Linked DNA regions of Homo sapiens: region 2 is linked to region 1. The links come from fine-mapping of genetic effects on gene expression. Tissue or cell type: whole blood. Region 1 holds a variant in brackets; the other region holds the start of a gene. All regions are shown on one strand. Distances are between the middles of the regions.

Evidence for each region. PIP is the estimated chance that this variant, and not a neighbour inherited with it, causes the effect.
Region 2: GCLM starts here. The variant in region 1 is fine-mapped to the expression of GCLM in whole blood (TOPMed, PIP above 0.99).

The regions. Positions count from the first base shown.
Region 1 is chr1:94,041,369-94,043,868 of GRCh38, reverse strand. ABCA4 (ATP binding cassette subfamily A member 4) reads left to right here. Exons shown (of 50, transcript NM_000350.3): 21 at 394-533; 22 at 971-1,108; 23 at 2,467-2,500. Among named protein-coding and RNA genes, the nearest start is that of ABCA4, 79 kb to the left of the region's middle. The variant T/A (reference allele first, on the strand shown) is at 1,233.
Region 2 is chr1:93,907,880-93,910,508 of GRCh38, reverse strand. It overlaps GCLM (glutamate-cysteine ligase modifier subunit), which reads left to right and starts at 1,079. Exons shown (of 7, transcript NM_002061.4): 1 at 1,079-1,471. The coding sequence starts at 1,346. It overlaps LOC124904221 (a long non-coding RNA gene), which reads right to left and starts at 917. Exons shown (of 2, transcript XR_007066230.1): 1 at 355-917. RefSeq lists an enhancer at 556-715 and silencers at 756-995, 1,206-1,565, 1,616-1,665.

The DNA of each region.
Region 1 (2,500 bases):
TACATGTATAGATAGATAAACACATATACTTCAAAATGATAAAGAATAGTAAAACTATGCATACAATTTTATAACCTGACTTTTTTTTCAAAAAAAAGGATTGCTTTTTTAAACATAAGATATCAGGAACATCTTTCATGTCATTACATATTCTTCTATAAAATAATATTTAATGTTTACAGATTATTCCATTGTATGCATGAACTATGTAAGCCATCCTCTTATTAGATATTTAAGCAGGGTCTGCTATTTTTGTATTGTATCATAAACACCACCACAGTGAGCATCTTGATTGCCAAATCAAGAATACTTGTCCTCAATTATTTCTGTAAGATCAGCTGCTGGAAGTGGAAGTGCTAAGCCACTGCTTTTCTCGTTGTCCCATCCTCCTAGCCTCACGGTGGCTGAGCACATGCTGTTCTATGCCCAGCTGAAAGGAAAGTCCCAGGAGGAGGCCCAGCTGGAGATGGAAGCCATGTTGGAGGACACAGGCCTCCACCACAAGCGGAATGAAGAGGCTCAGGACCTATCAGGTGCTCAGAGCTGGATGGAGACAGGGCCACAGATGGCAAATCCATGGCTCCCCAGTGCACCCAGGAGGCAGGGGAGGCTTGGAGCAGGAGAGCTTCTAAGGGTGGGAACACCTCTGTGAAGTTACACCAAAAATCTAAGAGCAGCCCCCAGATCATTTTCCCTGCAGAGCACTGTCTCACAGCAGCCTGGGTTTTATTTGTCCTGAGATTGATGTGCTTGAACAGTCTTCAAAGGGTCTGATCCGAGGAGGTGAGGGTTGCCCTTTCTGCATTTACAAAGCCTGAACAGTATTAGGGCTTTGAACGCTATAAACATCTAAGAGGCAGCACCAAACCACTGCTGGGTTAAGGTACCCCCACAATGCCACTTGCCCTGGGCCTTTCTCTTCCTCACCCTCCACAGCCCCTTAACTCTCCCGTCCTTCTTGTGCCTCCAGGTGGCATGCAGAGAAAGCTGTCGGTTGCCATTGCCTTTGTGGGAGATGCCAAGGTGGTGATTCTGGACGAACCCACCTCTGGGGTGGACCCTTACTCGAGACGCTCAATCTGGGATCTGCTCCTGAAGTATCGCTCAGGTAACAGCTGCTGCTCAGTCTCCTGGGCTGGGCTCTCACTGCAGCCCTAGCTGTGGTCCCCACTCTCTCACCTGCCATTTTGTAGCTGAGTACAGGAACCACAATGACTACACTCAGAAGGGGG[T/A]TTATCAGTGACTTGGTGAATCTAAGTTCCAGCTAAAGCCTCCTGAGGTTTTTACAAATATAAACAGAGAATCACTGATGATGCAACCTACTTCCCAAAATATTTTAGAAAATTCTCTTGACCTGCAGCCCTTCTGTCTGGAATAATGGATGCTACTCTAGGTGAATGTCTTCTCTGACCATGGGGACCCAGGTCACCTGCAAACATACCTAGAAGCTCCATAGCTGTCAGATGACCACTCAGGACCAGTGTGAGGGTGACCTGCTGGGCATTCAGTGCTCCAGAGGGTGGCCACAGATGGAAGTGGCTCCTCTGTCATGGCACCTCTCAGACAAGGGGCTCAGATCAGAAGAGACAGCAAGCAGAGCTGAGTGCCCATAGAGGTAACAGCACGGTTCAACCCCGTGGTCAAGCCAGAGCTTTCCCCCTTGCTCTACTCACACAGCGTTGCCCCGTGCCTTTCTCTGAGGGTTTGTCATCCTGAAATCCTCATTGCTATTTTCTTTCTTTCTTTTCTTTTTTTTTTTTTTTTTTTTTTGAGACAGAATCTCGCTCTGTCGCGCAGGCTGGAGTGCAGTGGCGCAATCTCCACTCACTGCAAGCTCCGCCTCCTGGGTTCGAGCCATTCTCCTGCCTCAGCCTCCTGAGTAGCTGGGACTACAGGTGCCCGCCACCACGCCTAGCTAATTGTTTTTGTATTTTTAGTAGAGACGGGGTTTCACCGTGTTAGCCAGGATGGTCTCGATCTCCCGACCTCAGGTGATCCTCCCGCCTTGTCCTCCCAAAGTGCTGGGATTACAGGCATGAGCCACCGTGCCCGGCCTGCTGTTTTCTGTTAATGACATCTCCAGTTAGTGAGAGTATGCACGTGTGTGTTCTTTATGAAGAGTATAAATCCAGAGCTTAATGATCCAGAAAATGTACATATGAAACTCCCTAGATGCTGACCATAATACATGAGCCCCTAATATAGAGATTTATTTGAATCAGATCCTATGCTGGATACAGAGACACTGTGTGTGGCAATGCTTTACAGTATGTAGGAAGCTATGAAATGTTAGTTATTATTGTCCTAATATGCTGGAATTTGCTGCTGAATTAGTTCCCTTGGGTTTTTTTTTTTAGTTAACTCCTGATTTTTGCAACTATATAGCCAGGAAATTGCTGTACACCCTTTACCAACAATGCCCAACCCAGGGCAGGCCTGGTGATTGCCCTGGCCCCTACCTTGCAGGCAGAACCATCATCATGTCCACTCACCACATGGA
Region 2 (2,629 bases), 130 kb after region 1:
CAATGAACTCTTACCATCATTCATTCAGCCAACAAATATTTACTCAACATCAGGCTCAATTTCTAACTTCCTAGAAAGATCTTTTTTCCCATCCCTCCCCTAATTCTTACCATTTTACCAACTGGTTCATCTCTCTTTTCAATAGCTATATTGTCCCCGCTTATAATGAGAATCTCATTTTGCCTTTAATAATCTGATTCACCTCAACGAATGTGAAAGATTGTTGAGGAAAGCTCAATACATGTTCAATTTGATGTTTATACCGAGTCCACCACCACACGTGAAATTTAATAGGGGTAAATAATCTCGACCACCTCTAAAGGGGTGGGTGATAAAAGCTTTCTGTGATCTCACCGGCTCAAGTGTCCTCTTTAATCTGAATTCATCTGGAGAATAACTGCCCTATGATGTTCTTATAAAATTACTTGTTTCCTGTGCTTAGAACTTGTCTCTGGGTAGAGTGTACGCGTCTCAAGGGCAAAGACTCAGTCTTGTTCGTTGACTTCACACACTGCCAGCAAATAATGTGAATCAATAGACCTTTAACGGATGAAGAAAAATTAGCAGTTTGGGAGAAGGTCCTTGAAGGTAGCAAAGCGAAAAGAAGAAGGGGGCGCTTGCGCATAAACAGCTGCTTCTGAGAACGAAAACTACGTAGCATTTCCGAGTCCCGGTGGCCGCTCAGGCTGCCCTTTAAAGAGACGTGTAGGAAGCCCACCCTGGGGCGGCCGTGGGCGGAGCCGCGACCTGAACGCCGGGAGACCTCACCAGGCGGAGGCGGTGTCTACCTCACCAGGCGGAGGCGGTGTCTGCCTCGCGCTGTCCTCTGACCGCCAGGGGGAGCCCTGCCGCGCGCTGCGCTCCGGGCCGCGCCGCCACGCTCTCTCGACCCGCGCGCCCGCCGCGCACCACCCGTCGCCACGCCCGCCGCAGGCCAAGGGCCAGTCACTTGCGGGCCGGCGTCCCGCAGCCCATTCGCGCCCCGCCCCTGCCCCGCCGCGGGATGAGTAACGGTTACGAAGCACTTTCTCGGCTACGATTTCTGCTTAGTCATTGTCTTCCAGGAAACAGCTCCCTCAGTTTGGAATCAGCTCTCCCGCTGCGGCCGCAGTAGCCGGAGCCGGAGCCGCAGCCACCGGTGCCTTCCTTTCCCGCCGCCGCCCAGCCGCCGTCCGGCCTCCCTCGGGCCCGAGCGCAGACCAGGCTCCAGCCGCGCGGCGCCGGCAGCCTCGCGCTCCCTCTCGGGTCTCTCTCGGGCCTCGGGCACCGCGTCCTGTGGGGCGGCCGCCTGCCTGCCCGCCCGCCCGCAGCCCCTTCGCTGCGCGGCCCCTGGGCGGCCGCTGCCATGGGCACCGACAGCCGCGCGGCCAAGGCGCTCCTGGCGCGGGCCCGCACCCTGCACCTGCAGACGGGGAACCTGCTGAACTGGGGCCGCCTGCGGAAGAAGTGCCCGTCCACGCACAGCGAGGAGGTGAGCGTGGCGACACTCGCCGCGGGGCTCCCGGGGCAGGCCTCGGGCGGGGCCGGGCGGTTCCGGCAAGGGAGAAGCGCCCGCGGGCGAGGGAGGGTGGCAGGGCCTCGCGCGCACCTGGGCTCCGCCCGCGGTCAGATGCTGAGGCCAGTGTCGACGCGACCTTGGGTCCAAACCCGCTGCCGAGGGCAACGCGTCTAAAAAACTTAGCCGGTGCAGCTGCGCACTGAGTGACACCTCTCTCGGTGCTTAAGGCTGGTAGCAAAACTCTCAAACATCCTGGGTCCCTCTTCCTGGCACGGAGGTCACAGAGGGCCAGGACGTCGCTCCGTCTCTCTCCACATCTCTCGCTTCCTTCCCCCACCCTGTCCAGGTAAAGGAATATTTTCGGAGATTATCCTTTGGTGCATTCAGATGAAGTAGTATTCATAGTACACCTAACTTTTAGAATGTTGACATTAGACTCTCTATTGCAGTGAGGCAAATGAGTAAGCACTCAATTTTGGCTTTGGAATACCCTAAATACCCTGACTTTAGTCATTACACATTTTATGCACTTATCTGTGCGTCTATGTATGCTTTATCAGTACACATTCTATGCATGTAACAATATCATTGTACATTCTATGCATGTAACAGAATATCACATGTGCCCCATAAATATGTACAAATATAATCTATCAATTCAAAAATTAAAGTTTTGTAAAAACTGGAAAATAAAAAGACTAGTCACTAGTTGGAGGTGACAGAGATTAATCTGGAATTACAAACTTGTTACCTATTTGTTGGCCATTTCTGAGCGGATAGTCATCCACTGCACATTGTGCATATTGGTGGTATGGGACAATTTTAGTATTTAAAAAATAACAAAATCTTTAGATTTAGGAGCTATATGACTTTGGAAAATTACTTTAAAGTTGGATAATAACACCTTCCTCATCAGGTTGTTGTGAGAATTAAGAGGTAATATATGAAAACGCTCACCATGCAGGCATCTATCTCCCTGTCATCTGGTTCCATCAGAAAGATAAATCTTAATTAAGAGAAAAACCTTCCTAAACTATGTGTGTTTAGAAAAACCTTCCTAAATCAGCTGTGTTCCTAAGTGGTTTCTGCTCTCTTCTATGAGATGTTGGTAACAGACCATGCAGCAGCACA